Linked DNA regions of Homo sapiens. The protein of the gene in region 3 purifies or fractionates together with the protein of the main gene of each other region. This does not show direct contact. Each region holds a gene or a part of one and is shown on either strand. Other genes may lie near its edges.

Region 1 (3,500 bases), on a different chromosome or scaffold from region 3:
CCCATTTGCTGCCTTTTTTGTTTTTGTGGGGGAAGGGTTGGGAGTAAGTTTAAACTCTTCCGAAGATTATGAATGGGTCAGCACAAATTTTTAGGCAACTGCTTTTTCCATGTTCTGAGATCTACGGGCTACAACAAATTTTATCAGCAGTGTTTTTTGTTTTTTTGAGATGGAGACTTGCTCTGTCGCCCAGGCTGGAGCGCAGTGGCGCAATCTCGGCTCACTGCAACCTCCACCTCCTGGGTTCAAGCAATTCTTGTGCCTCAGCCTCCCGAGTAGCTGGGATTACAGGCACCCACCACCACGCTCAGCTAATTTTTGTATTTTTAGTAGAGATGGGATTTTGTCATGTTGGCTAGGCTAGTCTCGAATTCCTGACCTCAAGTGATCCACCCGCCTTGGCCTCTCGAAGTGCTGGGATTACAGGCGTGAGCCACCCGCCCGGCTATCAGCACTGTTCTGATTGCAGACGTTTCACAGCATGTTTGGCTTTTGGTAAATTCAATCCAGGAAAGACTAGCATGTGCACTTTATCTCATAATCTTCCAGTACATATGCTCTCAGTTGGGATAGCAGTTCATTTCCATTAGGCAGACGTATAAACTAAGGAATGTTAGTCTGCAGTATTCATTTTAAAAATATTGACATGCTTTTCCCCTCCCCTCCATGAAGTCAGTGCCAGAGTGAGCCAGATTGGGAGGTTGGGGTTTTGTTTGGTTGGCTTGGTTTTCATTAAGGGAAAAAACTTGCATTGGACAATCAAATTCCCCTGAGTTTCATAATCTCATCAATATTTTAAGATAGGCGAGCACACACTAATAATATCTATGCCTACCTTCTTGGGTGGACTCAACTGTAACCACAGTTTATTAGTTGCTTAGAAGTGGATTTTTAAAAAACAGTTAAATGTGTGTGCATAACACACAAGTAATGACACACTACTATTATTATTACCTAAGTAGTGCTCATCCTCTCTTTCTGTGTTTTCTTAGGATGTGCACTTTAATTTAGGATTGTAACGCCTAATAATATTTCTGTGAGCCTTTAATGTGATTTATAAGATGGCCGAATTACTGAAATCACCATTATACCTCTTCCATAAAACGACTCCAAAGTTAGACCTGCCTGTTGGGGAGAATTCTATAGACAGAAGGTCAATGTTGTCCCCATCCATAGGGGTTGAATTACCTTGCTGTTAAGTGGTCTTCCCCCATTGGGATCCTACAGTCCCACAGATGAAAGCACAGTAGTAGCTGACAGCTGGCTTATTTGGTCCCTCGGCATCTCTCGTATGTGGCATATTGCTTTTGCCACTTTCCTATCCAGCAGACATCAAAGCAAAACTAAAAGGTAGATATCTGGAATGAATGTATATGTTGTAATTGAGGCAGATATTTGCCTTAATTGGAAGGATCTAACTGCTTTACAAATATTAAACAAGTGCTTGGGCATGATTGGGAGAGGAGGCAGCTTAGCTGGAAGCTGTGCCCATCTTACTGTCACTGGAGAATAGGATGTCAGAGCTGGGCAGGACTGGTACCCATCATTTGCAGTTTGCATGTGGGGAAACCAAAGCCCTAAGAAACAACAGTTCCTGGCCCAAAAAATCCATAGAAAGAGGTAACTAGTGGCAGATTTGGGGCGCCAACCTGATTTTATGGATTTTGAGTTAGATTCTCTACCCTCTATCAATACTAAAAATAGATTAGGAGGGTTTTTTTTTCTGTTTATCATGTTGAATTTCATTGACTTAATTAGTCTTTAAATTTGAAAACATGTTTTAGGGAGTTTAGTTCTAGAAATTTCTCTTAGATTGAAGTGACAGAATCTGAAAGAAAAGAATATGATTGAGCTATTTGTTTTCCTGAACACCTCACCTTTTATGATGCAATAAGTTACTCTGAGTTTCTTGGCAGAGTTTTTGACAGCTGTTGCTTTCAATGGATTCCATTCCTGTATTCCTTATGGGAGGTTGTTTTTAAAATAGACTACTGCGATTGAAATGAACTCAATATGTAGTTAAGTTATAGTTTTCTTCAATGTATTTTTAGTTACTTGGGTCACAAATGTTCAATTTCAGCATATTTTAGGGTGAGTAATCAAAAATGTGAATTTGCCTTTGATTTCCTACCACTGTCTGAGCTATCATAAAGCATTCTCTTTAGTTGTGATTTGATTCTATAGTCTGTTTCTAAATGACATTTGTCTGTTTCTTAAATGATCTCACAGCCATGGTAATAATAGATGTGTACTCAGAAGATCAATAAGGTAATATTGGAATTCATGTGTTTTTTGCAATTAAGGCAGGCATTTGCCAATGTCTTCTTTTAAGCAGTAGTTGGAAACATCTCAATTACAGTGTAACACCTTAGAGCTAAAAACATTTGTTCAACACAAACTAGAATCACACCTTCTCACTAGATATCACCAAGGGAATGTGGTTTTAAAAATAAAAAGAAAACAATATAACGTATCATGGCAACCAGAGCTTCCCATATTATTGACAAGTAGGGATCATTAGGTTCTGGTTTGAACATTCTGAATGTGAACAAAATGAAATAGTAGTTAAGAGGTGTTTTCCCACTGTGTTTAAAGAGAACACTAGTAATTCTGGTTTTTCTTTCTAACTGCTTTACTGTTTCAAGGGTATTCTTTTAAAACTCTGATTTCAAAGGATCAGTTGAATTTATACTTTAGTTATGGGTGTTTTGTTACTTTTTTTTTTTTTGTATCATGACTCAGTATGGTTCAATTTCCTAGTAAGAAGTGGGGATTTGTGTTTTTGGAGTCCTCAGCTCACATGTCTTGTTCCTCCTTCAGCACAAGCTAGGGGAGATCCTACCAACACTGATAGGTCAGTCATTGATGGCAATTTGAATGTGGGTATTACTCTGTGAGCCACCCTGCTTCGCTTGTTTGTAAGGAGAAATGCATCTGGTTATGTGAATTTCCCGAGAGCAGCAGACATGGAGGGCCAGACTTTAAAAGCAACGCAAGCAGATTCGAAGAGCTGTTGCCCTCTTCTAAAAAAGGCTTTTGGAGGCTGTGTTACATGCATGCCCTAAAGCAGTCAGTCTGTTAGTATGAGCAAGACATCTGAAGTACACAGTTGCTTTTAGGCTTGTATAGTTATTTTCTACACATGCCAACACACATGATGATAAAGGAACCTTTTCTAGGAGGCATTGCAGGGTTTCAATACACAGGACATGTTCTAGTTACAGAAGCCTTGCTCTGCTGTCAACAATTGGGAAATGCTCATTTTTTCATGTTTTGTGAATACTCTGGTCTTGCTGTAAGCTAATGTCATGGCTGTGGGATATTAGAGAAGTGGGTTTATGACTCTGAAGACCAGCAGACACCAGACTTTAAAAGTGCTTAAATTGGAATTTGGAAACTACAGTAAAGAAACCTTCAGATACCAGTTCCATCCTGAAGCCCTCTGTTGAACAACAGGGCCAGATCCTAAAGCTCTTTCAGGGAGCTCTTCTCTGGGGCTG
Region 2 (3,500 bases), on a different chromosome or scaffold from region 3:
CTGAGGGGACACATACTCATAACCTCATCTAACCCTAAATACCTCCCAAAGGCCCAACTTTCAAATACCAACACAAAGAGGGATAGGGCTTCAATGTATGAATTTTGGCAGGGGGTGGGGACACAGATAATCAGTTCCTAACACACAGAAAAGGAAGTAGAACCTGGATTATTAATGGCTGCTATCTGCCCATGACAGGCAGATTTCTAAGAAGACCCACGTCCCTCCCCTAAGTGAAGGCAGGACCCGTGAATATAATGAGATGTCACTCCCATGATTGCGTTATGGTACGTAAAGAAGGTGTAGGGATTTTGCAGACGCAATTAAGGACTCTGAGCAAATCAAAAGTGACATGATTCTCAGCGGGCCTGAACTAATCAGGTGAGTTCTTTAAAAGAAAGACTGGGGTCATCACCAAGGTCAGAGATTCTCTTACTGGCCTTGAAGAAGCAAGCTATCATGAGTTTTACAGCTGCAATGAAATGAATTTTTCCAACAATCATGTAAACTTGGAAAAGAAGCCTGAGCCTCAGCTGAGCCTTTAATCTTGACTGCAGTCTTGTGAGACCCTGAGCAGAGACCCACAAAAAGCCATGCCTGGACTCCTACCCCATGGAATCAGTGATATAATAAATACAGGAATACACAAGGTTTTAGGCGGCTAAGTCTGTGGTGCTTTATTACACGGCACAGAAAGCCAATATGCTGCCACAACAAGCTTACTTAAAAGACAAGACCTAAGAACAATTCAGATAGATGGCAAAAGGTGGGAAAAGCTAACTAAATAACCATAATTTTATGTTCCAAACTAATGCTGCTTAAGAGTACAGGATCACAAATTCTTGCCATCCATCCTTCATGCTCCTTAGCTCATGAGCTCCTCTGTGCTTGCTTTATAATTATTTTTTACGTTTAGCTTACCCAGGCCTTTCTACCAAGGACATAGAATAAGACAAAGCTGGTAGGCCGAGTGCCCTGGCTCACGCCTATAATCCCAGCACTTTGGGAGGCTGAGACAGGCGGATCACAAGGTCAAGAGTTCGAGACCAGCCTAGCCAAAATGGTGAAACCCTGTCTCTACTAATCATACAAAAATTAGCTGGACGTGGTGGCGGGCACCTGTAATCCCAGCTAATTGGGAGGCTGAGGCAGGAGAATTGCTAGAACCCGGGAGGCGGAGGTTGCAGTGAGCCAAGATTGCACCACTGCACTCTAGCCTGAGCAACGGAGCAAGACTCTATGTCTCGAAAAAAAAAAGAAAAAAAGAAGTTTAAAAAAAAAAAAAAGACAAAGCTGGCCATTTAAGTTAACAGCTACTATAGCCTAAGTATTTCTTCATGGTCAAGTTAACTGGGAATACTATGAAGGGACAGTAAAACATGAAGGCAAAGCTATGATGTGGTTACTTTCTCTATCTTTGTATTCAAAACATAAAATTTGGCAAGCTCACTGAAAAATACCGCCCAATTCTAATTACCTCATCAAACAACAAAATAATGGCTTCTTCTAAGACAGCTCCAATGATTCATTTCTTGTGAAATCCCTTCCCCTTAAGTGTGTGCTAGATTTATTAACTCACTTCCAATGAGCTCAATATAGTCAAGTGATAGGTGGTCCCTTAGAAGGTCACTTTTATAAAAAGCCTGTGGCTTTCATCGTGGGGACTCTCTCGGCTCACTCCCCCAGGGAAGGTGCTGCCAGGTACTGCAGCACTGCGGAGAGGCCCAATGGCAAGGAGCCAAGGCCTGCCAGTGACCCACCAGTAGGCTTGGAAACAAACTTCCCCTTCTTCTCCCAAGCTGAGCCTTCAGCTGAAGTCACAGCCATGGCTAACCATTTGCAACCTCCAGGGCGACTGGAACCCCGTTAAGCCACACCCAGATTCCTGACTCACAGAAACTCCGAGGTAATAAATATTTGTCATTTTAAACCAGGATGTTCTGAGGTAATCTGATATGTGGCAATGGATAACTAATACCACCACCAAATGTAAGGTAAAAACATTAGATGCTTTGAGGCAAGAGTAAAAAAAAAAAAATTCAAAAAGAAGACAAAAGGTCTCACCTTAAGCACTCTTCCTGAAAGGCCAACAATCTCACCATCCTTTGGCTCTACTTCTGTAGCAGTATTCACATCGCCACTTCCTGTTGTATCAATGATATCAACGATTTTTGGTTTTCCATCAGTTGTAACCTGAAAATTAAGAAAATTAAAATATGAATGGTAGATTTTAGGTTTTTATTCCTAAACAATGCAAATCCACATATATATGTGTGTGTATATACAAAATCTACATTCACTTAAAAAAGAGAACTGAACTGTTTTAAGCCAAAAGCCTGAACAAATACTAGTAAGAAAATTTAATCGTGGAAACACTACAGAATCCTTCAAGTCGTTTCATATATTCAATAAACAAATATTTACTGAGCATTTACTATAGACCACACCCTATTTTAGGTGCTGGGGATATGGCAGTGATCCATACGCAAAAATCCCTGACGATCTTATAGCGAGAAAGCAGTTCAGTTAATAACAAAGTAAAATAAAGAACATGTCAGATGTGCTATCACACTGGGTATTAGGGAAAAAAAAGAACATGTCAGATGGTGAAAATTAACTATGGAGAAAAATTAAGCAGGGAAGGGAGATGGTCAGTGTGGGGTTTTCAACATAAGTTTGGCTGGTCAAGGAAGGCCTTGCTGAGATGGTAACATTTGAGAAAAGATCTAAAGATGGTGAGCTGTGGGCTGGACAAGTTTAGAGCTTTAGGGGGAAAAAATGTTTAGTAGTAATGGTACCATTTAATGGCACCATTATTGGATGCCACACTAGCACCTCAAACGCAACAAAGTTCAAGCTTAACATGCCCCCCACCACCTGATTTTCTCCAGGCTTTGCCATCCCAGGAATCCCCACGCCCAGCTGTTCACACTGGAAACTTAACAATCCTCCTCTGATTCTTTACTTCAGTTGACTCCTCACAGCGAAGCTAACAGGAAATCCTGTTAATTCTTTGTCTAGAAGAGAGCTCAAATCCATTGCATTTTCACTACCACTATCCTAACTTTCCAAACCACCACCATCTCTTGCCTCCATGAGGTGAATTACCTAAGTGGTCCCTCAGTTTCCACTCTTGGCCCCATCAAAAGTAATACAGGCTGAGTGACCCTAACCTGAAAATTCCAAATGCTCCAAAATCATGGACATGAAGTTCAAAGGACATGTTCATTGGAGACTTTCGAATTTGCGATACTCAACCTGTATTAAAACAAGCTGTATTTTATCAGTCCTCTCCTTTAAGCCCATCAATGTATTCATGGAGCACTCAGAATACTCGCATAAAAAGCCTCGCACCATCTGACCCCTGCCACCCCGTTACTCAGGAGTCTAACCACGCCAACCTCCTTTCAATTCCTGAAACATGCCAAACTTTTTCCTGCCTCATGACTTTTTAAACAGGTTCCTTCTGCCTAGAATTCTTTATCTCTTCAGTTGTTCCA
Region 3 (3,500 bases):
TCAAATAGGAATCTCTGGTAGACTCAAAGAGTACAGCTGATTTGCCATTTCAGAGTGAAAAGGCTGCACTGTCTCACCCTGCCCCCAAAGTCTAACCTATCCTATTTTAACTGGTATTGGTAAAAACTATTTTTGCAATTCCTTGCCGAAAGGAATCAAACGGATCCCTTTAACATGTACATATAGTTCCATTATAATGCAATGCAGGTAACACTAACTTGATTTCAAGAACATTGTCAAAACTGGGGTACACATCCTTCTATTAGAAATGGCTGGGGGACAGCTGAGAATAAATTTATGGAATTACAAATTATGGGAATACTGGACTAAGTCAAGAATGGTTACCATGTAGCCATTTTTACCAGCTATTCTAGAGTCCCTTCACACATAAACTTGACCCTGCATTCCGGGAAAAGTACCTCTGGGTTGTCACTACAGAGTAAGGCTGGGGTCCTGCCAACCTTCCTTCATCCTTTCTTCTAGTTCATAATAGGGAAGGTGAGCCATTTCATTCATTCATGTTTTGTTTGTTTTGTTTTTTTGAGACAGGGTCTGGCTCTATTGCCTGGGCTGGAGTGCAGTGACACGATCTTGGCTTAGTGCAACCTCTGCCTCCCGTGCTCAAGCCATCCTCCCACCTAAGCCTCCCAAGTAGCTGGGACTACAGGTGTGCACCACCATGCCTGGCTAATTTTTGTATTTTTTGTAGAGACAAGGTTTTGCCATGTTGCCCAGGTTGGTCTTGAACTCATGAGCTCAAGCGATCGGCCCAACACAGCCTCCCAGAGTGCTGGGATTCCAAGTGTGAGCCACCACACCCCGCCCATTTCATTCTTATTTGGTGAGATTGTCACAGACTTGGCTGAAACTTAACAAGAAACTGTTTACAGCAACAAAGGAAGCAATTAAAGTTAACATGATCATTCAACTGTGCCATTCATCATGCACTTATTGACATGCTCAAAATAGGGGAATGTTAAGTAAGGAAATGAAGTGGGAACAGGAACAAGGGAGCTAAGCCAAGAGGACTTCCAGGGACTTGAACAAAAACAATTCCCAACCACATACTACTTTTCAAGCATTTTGAAACTCTTCTTTTCCTTTAGTGATGTTTTCAGTAACAAACTTGCAAGTGTTCTTGGTGGTTAAAAAACAAAACAAAACTACAAGTATCAGCTGAGAAAGACAAAGAAAAAACTAAGAATTTAAATTAGATAATTCCATTTAAAGTTTCCAATTCCTCGTTTAGGTGGAGTTGGAACATTAGAACTCAGGGGTGGTTTGGATATTAACAAGGTACTCCTGCCTCCTCAGAAGCTACAGTCTTTTCTGCAGCTCTCTTATGTACCTCTCATCAAAATAATTTCAGTCCCACATTTCTCGGATAAAACCACATCTGTGGTTTTATCCAGCAACCATTTCACAGTCGACTGGCACGTGTTCTCCAATTTCAGTTCCAAACACACAACACAGAATCACACTTTTCTTTATTAAAGGGACCCAAGTGATTTTTAAGCTGTATTCTTCCTGCTAGAGAATGAATTGAGTAGCATCCTTCTCTAATTTCCTACAATAAAATTTCCTATGTGATATACTGCATATATATTATATCTGATATATGTTTTGATTATTTTTCTTTATGGAAGCAAATACAGAATTTCCTTGTCAGATCACTCTGATGATTATAATCTGCTACTTTGATTATGCATCAGTGAAATGTCCACCAAGCAGTTGAAAACACTGATGTACATGTATTCTAAAACTTACTAAATAATGGGCCAGTAAGATACCAGTATCTTTCTAGAACGTTTAGAAAGAGATCTTAGTTGCCAGAGAAAACTCAGATACAACATGAGCCTCTAAACACATACACTCTAGTCTACAAATATGAGACTTTTCAACTCAACAATAAGTGGGCCGAAAACAATATAGGGCGTATGACCTAGACTCCCTGGGTGCTGCTCAGCAGCTGCTTCAGCATCAAATTGTGTTCATCCCATTTTCTAATCTAACCAAGCACTTGGAACTAAAGGGCTGTATGTGAGCCCAAGAAACTGATATATTAAATATTTTTCACCACATATGACATCTTTCATTCAGTACTGCCTGTTAGTCAATTACTGTGGATTCTTTCAGGGTTCATCAATGCATGTGTGGCTCGATGGTTTAGGAATAAATATATTCTGGCTCAATGCTTTCCACTGAAATGAAAGGTCACAACTTCTATGTTCCCTATCAAATGTGTAAAGCAAAAACACAACAAACGAAAACAAGAAAGTAGAGTTGTTTGTTGATTATATACAGTCATGTGCTGCATAAAAACGATTCCATCAATGATGGACCACATATACCATGATGGTCCCATAAGATTATACCATATTTTTACTGTACCTTTTCTATGTCTAAAATGTTTGGATACAGAAATACTTACCATTGTGTTACAACTGCCTACAGTATTCAGTACAGTAACATGCTGTACAGGTTTGTAGCCCAGGAGCAACAGGCTGGACCATATAGCCTAGGTAGGTAGTAGGCCGTGCCATCTAGGTTTGTGTTAAGTACACTCTGTGATGTTCACACAATGACAAAATCACCTAAGGATGCATTTCTCTGAATGTCTCCCTCATCATTAAGTGGGGCATGACTGTATTTTTTTTTCTCTTTAAGGAAATAAGACCCTACTGTAATACAAGTCGGCAGAATCTAACTGTTACTAATAATTAATGTAATCCACAAGTCAAAGTTTTTTCATGCATCACCAAAAAAAAAAAAAAAAGTAATTTGCATGTGTTTGCATCCGTTTCTGTATTCAAAGAAGGTATGTAGAGTCTCCACCCATCATGTCTCCAGTGACAATTTTTTTTTTTTTTTTGAGGCGGAGTTTTGCTCTTCTCGCCCAGGCTGGAGTGCAATGACACAATCTTGGCTCACTGCAAAGTCTGCCTCCCTGGGTCAAGCAATTCTGCCTCAGCCTCCCTAGTAACTGGGACTACAGGTGCGTGCCATCACGCCCAGCTACTTTTTGTATTTTTGGTAGAGACAGGGTTTCACCATGTTGGCCAGGCTGGTCTCAAACTCCTACCCTCAAGTGATCCACCCACCTCGGCCTCCCAAAGTGCTGGGATTACAAGCGTGAGCCACCGCGCCTGGCCTCCAGTGAAAAATTTAAAAAGGATACAAGCTCATACTTGACGAAGTATTCAACTATGTAGTAAAATCACCATGATTTTATCCTGATTTGCACCTTGAGAATTAAAATAGTCACTTGATTAGAAGGGAATTATCAAATAACCAAAGGAAAAACATTTTGCTGGGCTGTTACAGAGATAATCCTGAATATTTGGAAAGGGGAATTAGAATGATCTCTTACTTTAAGAATTTCTGAACCAAACACCGCATGTTCTCACTCATAGGTGGGAATTGAACAAAGAGAACACATGGACACAGTAAGGGGAACATCACACTCTGGGGACTGTTGTGGGGTGGGGGGAGGGGGGCGG
Region 4 (3,500 bases), on a different chromosome or scaffold from region 3:
GACATCCAAGAAACAATGAAAAATTCAATTGTCACAGCAGAGGGACAGTGGAAAGAGAGTAAAACATGGAAAAAGGAATTTTTACATATAATCTTTATTTTTCCCATGAAGCACAGAGGTGTTTTGAAATAGAAGTAACAATCAGCTTTCCTTTTTTATAAAGTTGAATCTGTTGACAATGTGGAGGATGGACTGGCATAGAGACTGGCGAGAAAAAATTCTAGGCCAGGCGCAGTGGCTCATGCCTATAATCCCAGCACTTTGGGAGGCCAAGGTGGGAGGACTGCTCGAGGCCAGGAGTTCAAGACCAGCCTGGGCAATACAGCAAGATCCCATCTCTACAACAGATTAAAAAAAAATTAGCCAGGCATGGTGGCATGTGCCTATAGTCCCAGTTGCTCAGGAGGCTGAGGAAGGAAGATTGCCTGGGCCCAGGAGTTTGAGGTTTCAATGTGCCAAGATCACACCACTGTACTCCAGCCTGGGTGACAGAGCAAGACTCTGTCTCTTAAAATAATAAAAAAAGAAAAAAAAGAAAAGTCTGTAATGAGTAATCAGTTGCAATAGTCCAAGTGACAAATGATAGCTTTTTTCAGATGAGGCAACAGGGATGGTGATAAGACAACTTCAAAGACCTAATAGTAAGGATCGGGTTTATGATGATGATTTTAACTAAAAATGAGATAACATATCTCTGGAAGAAACTAGTTTTAGACTCATGTTTTAGAACAGAGATTTCAAAAGGTTCATTCTGGGAATGTAAGAGGGAATATAATAGCGATTGCAAAGCACTCTGAACTGGGTGAGACGTTATAAAACCATATTAGGATTAGACACATCCATGGTAGTAATGTCTTTGAATCTGAGACTGACTTTCTATCATGTTAATTTCCCTGTGTAATGAAATGAGAATTCTTTAGAAATGTATTATCAGATATTTATGCTAACAGGTTATTTGGATACCAGCTGTCTCGTAACACTTTAGTAGTTAAAGGTAGTCAAGTCCAGAGAGAAGCTGGGAAGTATGTTACAAAACAAGGTTTAAGTCTTAAAGCACCACCCTATTTATCCTAAAGAGCTGAGAAAGAATGTAGGCTCTAGAACCAGAAAAACCTGGGTTCAGATTCCAGCTCTGTCACTTACTAGAGGTATGGGCCCACATAATTCATTTATTCTCAGTTATATCATCTGTATATTGGAGATAACAATGTGTATCTCACAACATTGCTACTAGTTCCTGGCACAGAGGTGGTAGTTATATTATTGTTACAAATAAATTTTTCCTTGGCATGTTTCTTACAATAGAAAATACCATACTTACTGCCAATTGTTTACATAAGTCATTGCTTCTTAAAATATGCCAAATGTCCAACAATGATAGACTGGATTAAGAAAATGTGGCACATATACACCATGGAATACTATGCAGCCATAAAAAAGGATGAGTTCATGTCCTTTGTAGGGACATGGATGAAGCTGGAAACCATGATTCTCAGCAAACTATTGCAAGGACAAAAAACCAAACACCACGTGTTCTCACTCAGGTGGGAATTGAACAATGAGAACACATGGGCACAGGAAGGGGAACATCACACACCAGGGCCTGTTGTGGGCTGGAGGGAGGGGGGAGGGACAGCATTAGGAGATATACCTAATGTTAAATAACGAGTTATGGGTGCAGCCCACCAACATGGCACATGTATACATATGTAACTAACCTGCACGTTGTGCACATGTACCCTAAAACTTAAAGTATAAAAAAAAAAATTTCCTCTAAAGCTCCCTTAGCCACAGAGTAAAGTGAAACACATACCCAAAGATTTGGGTATATAATCTGAAGCCAGCATAAAATTTTTAAGTTTTATCTTAATTATATTAGTGTGCATGCTGCACATAACCACATTTAATGGTTCAGATTTTAACTCTATAACATCCCTGTTGCCTCATCTGAAAAAAGCTATCATTTGTCACCTGGACTATTGCAACATATTTAAACATAACCATATTTAATAATAAAATGTTAATCTTCAGATAAAATTGGCAAACTAAGAAAATGTACCAGGTTTATACTACAGCAATGCCCACAATACAGTGCCTCAATTACCTCAAGATGTCTCAGATTAGATGGCATACTGTACAGATTATGCTGCCTTTGGCAAAAAGCCAAGAAAAAGCAGAACTACTTAACCTAAAACATAGACCTTTCCTATAGGCAAGAAAAATTTAAAAAATAAGTCCTTAAGATACCTACCTATACATTTTGTCCTGAAAATGTACTTGCAGACCTGCTTTAAGTGAAAAAAGCTTAAAATGTGGGCTATAGCTGGAAAAATAGAAGAAAGTAATAATTATGAATCTAAATTGTAAAACTTTACCTGTTTTCTTCTTTTTATCAGAAGTAGCATCCAAAGTAGTTAAGGGAGTAGAGACGCTTTTATAAGCATCTTGACTATATCCAGGATCATCTTCATCAGAAGAAAATGAAGATAAATGTTCCAAGTTTTTAAGTTCATTATCAACTTTATCTGATGGACTGTTACCGCCAGTTTCAGACACTAAAGGTGTGGGTGTTGTAGATGAAGGCTTGGGAAGTGGTGGGGGACAAAATGTACGAACCATCTGGGTCCCTGGCCGTCTAGTCCTGTTAGGCATTCGTACAGCAAGAGTGGAAAACTGCTGCTTGGGCCCGGATTTCAGAAAATCTAAGAAAGAAGCAATAAATCCTGTTTTGACTTCTGGTTGTTTTTCCTCCACCTCTTTGATCTTCTGTCTCATTTTTTCTTGATGCTGATAACCATCATGGCAGCTTTCTGAGGAAGGAGGAGTATACGGTAAGTAAATATCTGTTCCCCTTGGATTCTGGCGTTTGCCTTGGGCAGGTCTTTTCAGCTGTTTCTGATTACTGTTGTCTTCCTCTTTAACTTGCCCTTTTCCTTTAGCTCTTTTCTTTTGAAGGTTAAAATGCATTAAATCTTGGTTTTCTTCTTCAATCTTGACACTGACTGCATCCCCAGATTGGGCCATGGCCAACAGTGCAAGTGCACTCCTAGCTGGGTTCATTGACACACCACTGTCGTCACCCCCTAAGGTAAATTCACTCTCTGATGTAGCATTCTCTCCACTTATACTTCTACTACTAGAAACAAACTCTTGGTTTCTGTTATTATTTAATGTACTATCAACAGGAGCTTCACTGTCTTCTTCAGATTCAAGATTGGTAGCAGACTGTTTCTTGAATGGGCCAGAACTTTGCTCCTGGACTTCATGACTTGGTCCAACCACTGCTGAAGTTACTTTAGTTGGTATATTTTGACCAGGTGTTTCAATGTGCTGTTGATCAAGAGTCATTTTTGACTGAAGGGCAGGTACTGGTGAAAGGTTCACAGTAACCTGATTTCCATTTAAGGAAGTATCATTTATATTCTGTGGCTTTCCTACTGTAGCTGTCATAGAGTTAAAATCTGAAGTCACATGCCTGACATCTAATGACTGCTGAAAAT
Region 5 (3,500 bases), on a different chromosome or scaffold from region 3:
AACCAAGTCCCGTATTATTAAGAATATTGTATTTATGAATAAGTCAACTTTAAACTACAAAATATCCCCCATACTAATAATATTCATTTCTTGGTTTCTAATATATACTTATACATAACTATATATGTACTTTATACATAGCTGTAATAACTTTTATGTACACTTTTGTATTTTTTTCACATATTTTTCCAGAGTCATTATGAAACTTTAGGGCCATTACACTTAGCATTTAAAATAGGTAATACATTCACATGGTTCAAAAATGAAAAAATACACAAAGTGAACTGTTTTCTCATCCCATTTCCCAACCACCAAAATCCTAAAGTAATAAATAAGTAGTCTAAATTTCAGGAGGAACGCCTCTGTTTTTCCATTAAATATAATGTCTGTTGTTACTCTTATCAAGGAGAATTAAAGACAGCTGGAAAACCTGTAAAACTTAAATACTTCCATTTTCACTGTTCTTGTTAAGAGGCTGCTCTCCTTTCTTGTCAAAGAAACTGCTAGTGTTATGAGAAAGAGAAGAATATCCTAACACGTACAGTACACACAAAAACTATAAAAACTAAGACAAATTTATTCAGCACCTGGTTCAGACATCTGCTTTGGTTTCCATTAATAGGATCTCTACTATCTGCCAGGCATAGCCTGTCTAAAAGGCAATTATTACCTGATCTTCATATCCTTCTATCTTCACAGGCGTGAACTGATCCATGTTATACTGGGCAAATGCACTGTTTTTTTTTAAAAGTTTTTTAAAAAAAAAAAAAAAAAGAGGGAGAGAGAAAAGAATTATGTGTAAATAAACACAAAAGGTGGTTCACAGAATAGTGAAAGGAAATGTGAAAATAGTACCCTGTACTTTTCCCTTCTCCCCAGACATCCAGTGTTAACATAATGCCTTCCAGCTTTCTGAAGGGACTCCTCTCTACGGAGATCTTGGAAGCTCCTTAAACTCTGAAATTACCTTTTCCTCTCTGCTCCTGAGCTCCAAAAGACCTTCTGCTTAGACAATTCCAAAGTTGGTTTGTTTTGAGATAGAGTCTCACTACGTTGCCAGGCTGGCCTCAAACTCCTGGGCTCAAGAGATCTTCCCATCTGTTTCCTGAGTAGCTGGGACTACAGGTGCACACCACCACACTCGGCTAATTCCAAAGTTTGAAGCAATCTAATTATTGTGAACTGCCAACAATTTTAATCATTTGGGCAGAAGCTTTCAGTAATTCAAAAGAATCCTCCATTGATACACTATTTTGGAAATGATCTTTTTTCTTGGCTCTCAAAGTCACGAGAAACTATAATTAAATGTCAGAAGGCATCTGACATGCGAAGAAGGTGAAGTGAGAGTTGAGCATGAGTCAAGTATAAAAGTAGAGCCTCAGGCACAAAGTAGTTATTTTTAAAAGAGGAATGCATAAATAATCAAAGTACATGCCTAATATTACTATTTGTCCAAAGCTTGATTTTTGAAATTCTGCATTTTTAATGGCTCTCTAATACATTTTACAAAGCTAAAGCAAAAGACAAGATAAAAGAAAGATGGAAATAAGAGCTACACTTATATTCTTAAAAAGTATCAGTCTTCTCACAGAATTCCCAATTTTAACCTATTAAAATAGACTGCTAGTTTTTTTTTTTCCCCATGTCAGACAGGTAATGTGCCAACATAACAAGGTTTGAGGGAGGCACATCTCACACATGCATGTGAAAACTCAACCATCACACTTATGAACTACAAAAGGATGGAGACCACTAGTTTTAAGCAGTGGTTAAAACTAGGCTTCTCAAGATAAAGCAAAGTAACAAACATTTAAACTTCTTCAAATATTTAAAGCTTTTTTTTTTTTTTTTTGAGATGGAGTTTAGCTCTTGTTGCCCAGGCTGGAGTGCAATGGTGTGATCTTGGCTCACCACAACCTCCACTTCCCGGGTTCAAGCGATTCTCCTGCCTCAGCCTCCAGAGTAGCTGGGATTACCATGTGCCACCATGCCCAGCTAATTTCTGTATATTTAGTAGAGACTGGGTTTCTCTATGTTGGTCAGGCTAGTCTCGAACTTCCAACCTCAGGTGATCCGCCCACCTCAGCCTCCCAAAGTGCTGGGATTACAGGCATGAACCACCGTGCCCAGCCTCTAAAGCTAATTTTCAATCTTATTTTGTTAAAAGTTGTTACTGTATACTTTGTGTATTTATTTTTTTGGGGGGTGGGGGTGATGCAGTCTCACTCTGTTGCCCAGGCTAGAGTGCTGTGGTACGATCTTGGCTTACCGCAACCTCTGCCTTCCGGATTCAAGTGATTCTCCTGCCTCAGCCTCCCAAGTAACTGGGATTACAGATGCGCACCACCACACCCAGCTAATTTCTGTATTTTCTTTAGAGATCGGGGGGAGTCTCACCATGTTGGCCAGGCTGGTCTCGAACTCCTGACCTCAGGTGATCCACCCACTTTGGCCTCCCAAAGTGCTGGGATTACAGGTGTGAGCCACCACACCCAGCCAAAAGTTATTACTGTGTTTTACTCCTTAAAACACCACATCCCCATGTAGCAAAATTAATCCCAAACACATTAGCTCTTCAGAAAGGATACAATTTATTCATAAAAAGTAGAATAAATGTTAGTTTAAAAAAAAACGAGTAGGAAGTAAATATTTTATTCTAGTATATGTCCTAAGACTATAGATTACCAACACCAACACCAAAATGTCCTTACCTTTAATTCCATCTCAAGTAAACAGCATCTCCATTTTACCAGCTGCCTAAGCCAAAAACTTGGGGTGATCTTTGATTCTTCTCTTTTTCTCACACTTCACATCCAGTCCATCAGTAAATCTTGTAGGCTCTACTTAAGTACATATTCAGAATCTGACTTCTTCCCACCACCCCCACTGCTACCACTCTAGTCCAACCAGTAGCATCTATCCCTGAACTATTCTCATTGTCTTGGAATTACTCATCTTACCTCAGCTTTTGCCCCTCTACACAGGAGCTAGTGATTATTCTAAAATATAAGTCTCATTATGTTATTCTCTACTCAAAACAATCTTACTTCCTATCTCTGTCAGAATGAAATTCACTCTTTAACATAACTTACAACACCCTATTTATTCCAGAAGCGCTGGAATTATCTGGGGATGGTTCTGGTGGCCAGAAACTGGTGGAAATCCAGGAAAGATGGTAAATCTTAGCTACTTCAAGCCCTTCATTTTATACAGACTGAAGGCAATAATTATGACAATGATTATGAAAACATTAATTGAGCAGTTACTATGAGGACTATGGCCAAGGGACTGAAATGCTTTAATACAGAAATAAAACTGAATTTTTCTTCTCTATGGAAAATCAAATATTTGGGTCCAGGAAAATTCTCTTAACAAGAGGGTTCCCCAAGAACCTATAGTCTATAAGAACCAGAATAGTTATAAATACAAAGCTTTAGTGTCAGTGCAATTAAAGAAAATGAAGTATCTGAACTACATACCAACTTCTCTTAATCTTAGCC
Region 6 (3,500 bases), on a different chromosome or scaffold from region 3:
TAACCCAGTGGAAAAAAGAAAACATTGCCTGGCCCAACACTGCCACTTATAATTTAACAACCATTGCTCTCTCTCGACTTACAAAAATTCTGGCCAATATTATTTTTTATTTCCTATCAATATTAGATAAATATGGAATGAGTACATTGCTTTAAAACATAAACTCAATTTGAAACATTTACTATTACTGCCAATAAAAATGTAGCACATAACACTACTGAAATCTTACATTAGTTCATAAGCCTATTTGATTAATCTTTGTCTACCCTACTAGACTAAGTTTCAACAGAACAGGGGCCATCTGTTTTGAAAGACACAAACATTTAAACTAATGGAAAGACACAAACATTTAAACCAGTGTTGCAGAACAGAAAGACCCATCATGATAAAGATGTCAGTTCTCACAAAGTTAATTTAAAATGTGATACAATCCCATAAAAATACCCCTCACTCCTACCCATGGAGCTAGACGAACTGCTTAAAATTCATTTGGAAGAATAATAAAATAAGAATGAACTAAGAAAACTGATTTAAAAAAAGAGCAAAGCTATTGTTATCAGATTTTAAAGCATACAATAAAACATTTCTAATTAAAAGTGTGGTACTAAAAAAGTATGGTACTAACTCATGGACAGATGGATCAGTGAAATAGAAAAGAAAATCTAAAAAGAGACCAAACTGTATATGGAAATTGCTTTATAACAGCACAAGTGAATAAAATTCAAAGGGATAATGAAAATAATTTTTTAAAAATATATTTCCTTGTTTTAGAAATGTAAATGTTATTGCATGATTTCACATATTTAATACTGTATAAAGTTTCACTGTTCTACGCTCTAATTTTCTGCATTTATTACCACTTCTAAGGATCTTGCTTAGTTACCAAATTAGAGCTGTTCTTCAGTAATGCTATAATTATTCAGAAAACAACTCTTGCATAGAATACAATTTACAATGATAAAAGCAATTAAAAGTACAAAAGAAGAACAGTGTACCTCCTTTTAAATCTTAAGACTGAATAAGCTCTTTTTATTTTCTTTCAAAAAAACATGATCATAATAAATAATGGAACTGGTTATTACAAAAAGCAAACACATACTCTTTAGTGAATATCCCCCGAGGGCCAGTGGCTGTGCCCTGGCTAGCATCCAGTGAGTGTTTTTCCAGAATATTGCGGGCAGCTGGACTTAAACGGAACCTAAGAAAAAAATATGAAGGTTAATAGAACCAATTAACACTTACATTTGATTCAAATAGATCTAAATGTCAACAGTTTCGCAAATAATTAAAAAAAAATCTTATAATAAAGCTAAAATGACTCCCACAGATGGTCACAGTCAAATAATCTGTACCAATTTGGTTTATTTTATTCTTTAAACACTTTCGTAAAAATTTAGTTACTATTTCTAAATATGATTTTAATAAGAATAAATATTAATTAGGGGAAAGAGCTGCTATTTCAACTAATTACTTTCACATGGGTGCTCATCACAACTACCAATTGTTTCCTTCGTATATTTTGTTCTATCATTTCTTCATATATTTTGTATTGTGGCAAATGATACCTAAAATTTATCATTTTAAGCATTTTTAGGTGTACAACTGAGTGGCATTTAGTACAATCACACTATTGTGCAACCATCACCACCATCTATCTCCAGAAATGTTCATCTTTCCAAATTGAAACTCTGTATCTATTAAACAGTAACTCTCCATTCCTCCTTCCTCCCAACCCCTGGTAACCATTCTCTTTGTCTCTGTCAATTTGACTACTCTAGGTAACTCACATAAGTAGAATCATACAGTTATTTGTTTTGTGACTGGCTTATTTTACTGAGCATAATATTCTCAAGGTTTATCCATGCAGCATTTATCAGAATTTCCTTCCTAAAAAGCTGAATCACATTTCATAGCATTTTGGACTTATGAGTTGTTTCTACCATTTTGCTACTGTGAATAATGTTGCTATGAACATAGATGTACAAATATCTCTTTCCAGTCTTTGCTTTCAGTTATTTTGCATATATATCTGGAAGTGGACCTACTAGATGATATGGTAATTTTAATTTTCTAAGAAACTGCCATACTGTTTTCCACAGTAGCTGCAGCATTTTACACTTCCACTAGGCAACAACAAGGGTTCCAAATTATCCATGTCCTTGCCAACACTTGTTATAATCTGGGTCTGGTTTGGTTTTTGTTTGTTTGTTTGTTTTGATACTAGCCATCCTGAAGGGTATGAAGGGGTGTCTCATTGTGGTTTTGATTTTCATTTCCCTAATGGTTAGTGACGGTGAACATATTTTTCATGTGCCTGCTGGCCATCTATGTATCTTCTTGGGAGAAATGCTATTAAAGTTCTTCACCTGTTTTTTAATTGGGTTGTTTTGCTGAGGTTGAATTGTATGTATACACAATTATATATATTTATTATATATATAGGATACCTCAGATTACATGACTAATGGTATATCTCTTGTATGCAAAGTAGTAAACAAATTACTACATGGTCAGATAAAGAAAATAAGCCTGATTAGTACAGATTAAAACAGGCTGGATCTAGAAATTAAAGCTAAGAGACAGAAACAACTGTGGAACTTGCTGCATTTCAGGGAAGTATTAAATAACTCTGATATGGGCCCAATGTTACTAAATCTTTAGATTTTTCAAGAGAATCTGAAATTTTAGATTTTTATATAGGATTAGTAACCAACCAACCAAAAAAAAATTTTTTTTTCATTCACTGTGTGCCCAACAGTATGCAGAGTTCACAGGTCAGTAGGTTTTTAACCTACACAGTGGGGCCTGATTCATGCGAGTCTCTGATGATGACTGATCTTAATTAGGGTACATACTATTATTATCTTTGCAAGGGCAGAAGACCATTAGTTAGAAAGCATCAGTGAGACTGTCTTCCAATTTTTAGGGTAAATGAAAGAGGAGACAGTAAATGGGAGTCAAGGCAACAGAGTCAGAAACACTGCACTAGGAATTTAAAATCAGTACTTCAAAAAGCAGGCCAGGCGCAGTGGCTCACGCCTGTAATCCCAGCACTTTGGGAGGCCGAGGCAGGCGGATCATGAAGTCAGGAGTTCGAGACCAGCCTGGCCAACATGGAGAAACTCCATCTCTACCAAAAATACAAAAAAATTAGCCAGGCATGGTGGCACATGCCTGTAATTCCAGCTACTCAGGAGGCTGAGGCAGGAGAATCGCTTGAACCCAGAAGACCGAGGTTGCGGTAAGCTGAGATTGCACCATTGCACTCCAGCCTGGACAATGAGATCAAAACTCCGTCACCCACCTCCGCACGCCCCCCCCTAAAAAAAGCACTGTGGATTCTTTTCTGACAATGATAAACTAAAGGAAAAAATGTTTAAGAATGAAGAGGTCTACTTTATGAAGATCTTTTTCTCGTAAAGAAAAAGTAATGTTGTATAATTATATAGAATACTAAATAAATGAAATGTTAGAATTTACAGAGTTCTTCTATTAAAGCA
Region 7 (3,500 bases), on a different chromosome or scaffold from region 3:
AAACCCAAACAGACGCTCTGCTCCTGTACCGTCTGGAGCATCTGGGGAGTGAGCTGCCCTCCAACACCCAAAACAGGAGGCTCTGGGATGAGTGTTCCTCCTCCCTCCATGCAGAAGCTCGAAGGCTGGCACTGCAGCTCTCTGAGGAGGTGGCCCCACAGCCAAGGCAGCCCCCACAGTGGACCGGGCAGGAGACACTGGGACCCTCAGCTTGCTCACAGTGAGGCCTGCAATGCACACGCAGGAGGGACCACAGTCAGCTCGAGGCTGTCTTTAGTGGGATGCTGGGGGGCTGGCTGCCACCATGCGCTGAGTCCCACAGGATGAGGCCCCACCCTGGATGGCCACCTTCCCTAAGGCCCCTGTGCCTACCAGAAAAGCCACTGCCCCTTGCATGATCCATGGGCAACCCCAGCCCCAAGTCCTCCTCTCAACAAGTCCAAGCTCATCTGAGGAGCTCCCACTTCCCCTGAGCTCGGCCCATCTGGAGCAAAGAGGGTGGCCCCAGGGGCTGCAGCAAGTAATGCAAACCAAGCCTCCTGGAGACAGGGGCTGCAGGTGTGTCTCGCTGACCAGGAGGCTGGCTCCCTCCATCATGGTCACAGCCCGTGGCACTGCTAAGTGTAATCAGGTGCAGAGTGGTGGGCAGCCCAGCCAGCTAACCCGACCAGCAGAGCTGACCGTGCTCGGGGCCCAGGCCACAGCTGGCGGGGGCAGTGTTGGGGGCCAGGCAGCCCTGCCAGATGCCCTGCTCTCAGACCCCTGCCGGGGACAGCCCAGCCCAGCACCCGCAGCCCCTCAGCACCCTCCTCCAGAGGTGTGGATGCAGCTGAGCCCAGAACTGGCTCCCAACTCCTGTGCTCCCTAGGAGGCTGGTTGCTTTGGATTTTATATGGATAGAGGGTAAGAAAAAGATGTTGTTTCACACTGTTTTCGAGCAAAAGTGTTTATTTTTCTCCTTCAGATATACAATCTATTGGGGATTCCGTGCCACTGACCACCATGTACAAGGAAGGGATTCACAGGCAAGGGGGACAGGTGAGGGCAGCCCCCACTTCACTCAAGGAACAGGGCAAGGGGGCCCAGTACAGAGAACAGAAATCTCTTACGACAGCATCGTGCCCTGGCAGAAGATTCTGCATAATCACCTAGAAAATTCAATTCTAACTGAATTGATGGAATAATAGATTTGAACCAAAATAATTTACCCAGTTCTAATAAGTACAGAAACTATACAATTCACAGCTGGGCAGTCCCAAGCAGTCTGCTTTCCAGTGGGAGGTGGAGGAGGCTGGGGCCTTCCCCTCCCACCAAGGGCTGTGTTGTGCCCACTGGGGACGAGTCCCACTGAAATCTCCAGGAGAAGAATGACCCCGCCCTCCGCAGAGCAGGCTTAGGGCTGGACGGGAGAGCGGTCTGCATGCCAGGGGTGAGCAGAGCCACAGGTCTCCATGGAAATCATGGAGAAGGGAGGGAAGTGGGCAGGAGAGAGGGCAGCCTCTCCAGCTGGAGGAGCTGCACTTGTCTCCACAGGGTGGGCGGGCAGCCAGGGTTTCTATGCCCAACACACACCTTATCCTCACTCACAGCAGCCCACTGGCATGGGGGGCATGTCTGCTCACCTAACGTTTTCTGGCGGATTTCTCATGGCCCAGCGCAACAACTGACATTCCCTACTGAGCAAGCAGCTCCGCCAGTGTGCCCTGCCCCAGCGTCCCGCCGTCTCTCAGCCCCTGGATGAGCCCAGGGAACCGGCACTCTACTGAGGACAAAGCAGGGCTCACCTAGCAATGGAAGCTCTTCAATACTTAAGGTAGCTAATTCAATGTTTGTAAAAGGCATTTACAACAGAAAACCAAAGATTGAACTTCAGCTTCAGATTTGTAAACCATTCACATCTCTGCAACTTAAAACAGTAAATAAAGATTATCAATGCACAAGCCAATTGCAAATGAAACCTTTTCCGATAATTTTTTTTAACATATCTTTTCATCAGGGAACGGAAAAGCTGGCATTCAAGGCACTGTACTTCTGCAGGGTGACGACAAGGTTCTAACCATCAACTCAAGTATAGGAAGTGGGTGTGGAGACGGCGCGTGGACCACAGGAACCTAGGAGCGAACAGGGTCTGAAGCCGCAAAGGAAGCAGTCTTGCTGCCCACCCGCTGTCCCCCTCGCGGCTGAGTGCTGTGCCCACAGCAGGCGGTGGGGGGGACTCGGAGGCCAAACCACACCTGGTTTCTCCGGGCGGTTCCGAGGGCGCCATCTGGCAAGGGACAGGGCAGAAGGCTACGTGATCCGCAGCCGGGGGCCAGGCATGCTGACCACAGGTGGCTGCAAGAAGACTGGCAGCACGGGCACCTGGGGGGTGTTCCAGCTGCCCTGTGCCCCCAGCTGGCCCACCTGGCCTGCCCAGGGCCCCCAGGACACTGGAGCTGGGAGCAGGCCTCTGTACTGACCCAGAGGCAGCGCACAGGGTGGGGTTGGGAGGTTGGAGAGGGCAGTACCTGGTGTGGGCACGGACAGGGTCGGGGCGGCTCCGGGAATGACCGTGGTGGACAGAGGGCCGGGCGCTGGGGGCAGACGTGGCATCCCCACTCCTGCTCGAGGTGCGGTCATCTACAAAACACAGAGACGAGAAGAGGAAGGTACACGTGGCTGCAATCAGCTGGCCTCCCTTAGTGGCCCCCAGGGTGCCACAGTTTCTCCATCCTCAGGAGGCAGCAGTCCTGGAACCTGCTGTGACAGGCACCCTCTCAGGGCTGACACCAGAATGATGGTGTGGGGCCAGGAACCATCACCCTCCCTTGTTTGCTTCCCCAAGCTGCAGCCTGATAGCCTCTAGGCCACACACCTGGGTGTCCACCAGCCAAAATGGGACTTGGAGGAGGACTAGTGGGGCCTGGACCCTGAGGGCGCATGAGTGACCCCACATGCCTCTACTCAGCCACCACAAAGCCCTCCTGCTTGGCTGGTCAGTGCCCTCACAGGAGCATGAACCACCCAGGAGCTGGCAGGAGCAGAGCCCCAGGACCTGGGCAAAGCAAGTGTGCAGGGAGGTGATGGCAAGGCAGCCCTTCCACTGTCCCAGCCCGGGGAGAAGCTGTATGCGGGGTGTGCCCCAGGAAGGCAAGGCTGCTGGCCACGGGGAGTCACTCCTCTCCACTCCAGGGAGGGCCCCACTGGGCACTCTTCACAGGTGCATGGAGGGCACTCGGTGACTTCCACAACCCTTCCTGGAAATCAAGCTCGGCAGTCAGGGGCTGGAGGGGCCTCCTTATCTGGAAGGTCCTCTATGGAACCGACAGCTGAGCCCCTGCCCACGACAAAATGCCCAATACCTCCCCAAGGTGCCTCCATGCTTCCAGTCGACACCACGGGGATCTCCAGGCGGGGAGGAAAAGGAGTCAACCGCACAGACTGGACAGAGAGAAGGAGAACTGGCCTCATGCAGATGACAAGACTGTGTATGCAGAAAACCCACAAGAATGGACAAACCA

What was found.
Region 1: the proteins of AAK1 (region 3) and REPS2 purify together in Homo sapiens (affinity purification with mass spectrometry, with the first as the bait; one large-scale study listed by BioGRID). This does not show direct contact.
Region 2: the proteins of AAK1 (region 3) and TPP2 purify together in Homo sapiens (affinity purification with mass spectrometry; one large-scale study listed by BioGRID and IntAct). This does not show direct contact.
Region 4: the proteins of AAK1 (region 3) and QSER1 purify together in Homo sapiens (affinity purification with mass spectrometry, with the first as the bait; one large-scale study listed by BioGRID). This does not show direct contact.
Region 5: the proteins of AAK1 (region 3) and CAPZA1 purify together in Homo sapiens (affinity purification with mass spectrometry; one large-scale study listed by BioGRID and IntAct). This does not show direct contact.
Region 6: the proteins of AAK1 (region 3) and PDHX purify together in Homo sapiens (affinity purification with mass spectrometry; one large-scale study listed by BioGRID and IntAct). This does not show direct contact.
Region 7: the proteins of AAK1 (region 3) and WNK2 purify together in Homo sapiens (affinity purification with mass spectrometry; one large-scale study listed by BioGRID and IntAct). This does not show direct contact.

Annotation. Positions count from the first base shown.
Region 1 is NC_000023.11:17,149,158-17,152,657, forward strand, and holds part of REPS2 (ralBP1-associated Eps domain-containing protein 2), read left to right. Parts: 3' UTR 1-3,500. UniProt on the Homo sapiens protein: Involved in ligand-dependent receptor mediated endocytosis of the EGF and insulin receptors as part of the Ral signaling pathway. By controlling growth factor receptors endocytosis may regulate cell survival.
Region 2 is NC_000013.11:102,603,486-102,606,985, reverse strand, and holds part of TPP2 (tripeptidyl-peptidase 2), read right to left. Parts: intron 2,194-3,500; coding exon 2,065-2,193; intron 1-2,064. UniProt on the Homo sapiens protein: Cytosolic tripeptidyl-peptidase that releases N-terminal tripeptides from polypeptides and is a component of the proteolytic cascade acting downstream of the 26S proteasome in the ubiquitin-proteasome pathway.
Region 3 is NC_000002.12:69,458,740-69,462,239, forward strand, and holds part of AAK1 (AP2-associated protein kinase 1), read right to left. Parts: 3' UTR 2,973-3,500; coding exon of another isoform or gene 2,928-2,972; 3' UTR 1-2,927.
Region 4 is NC_000011.10:32,934,311-32,937,810, reverse strand, and holds part of QSER1 (glutamine and serine-rich protein 1), read right to left. Parts: coding exon 2,376-3,500; coding exon of another isoform or gene 2,252-2,375; intron 1-2,251. UniProt on the Homo sapiens protein: Plays an essential role in the protection and maintenance of transcriptional and developmental programs.
Region 5 is NC_000001.11:112,650,832-112,654,331, reverse strand, and holds part of CAPZA1 (F-actin-capping protein subunit alpha-1), read right to left. Parts: intron 1,745-3,500; exon of another isoform or gene 1,644-1,744; intron 735-1,643; coding exon 671-734; intron 1-670. UniProt on the Homo sapiens protein: F-actin-capping proteins bind in a Ca(2+)-independent manner to the fast growing ends of actin filaments (barbed end) thereby blocking the exchange of subunits at these ends.
Region 6 is NC_000011.10:34,958,118-34,961,617, reverse strand, and holds part of PDHX (pyruvate dehydrogenase protein X component, mitochondrial isoform 1 precursor), read right to left. Parts: intron 1,199-3,500; coding exon 1,100-1,198; intron 1-1,099.
Region 7 is NC_000009.12:93,316,639-93,320,138, reverse strand, and holds part of WNK2 (serine/threonine-protein kinase WNK2), read right to left. Parts: intron 2,620-3,500; coding exon 2,508-2,619; intron 2,267-2,507; coding exon of another isoform or gene 2,065-2,266; exon of another isoform or gene 931-2,064; intron 1-930. UniProt on the Homo sapiens protein: Serine/threonine-protein kinase component of the WNK2-SPAK/OSR1 kinase cascade, which plays an important role in the regulation of electrolyte homeostasis, cell signaling, survival, and proliferation.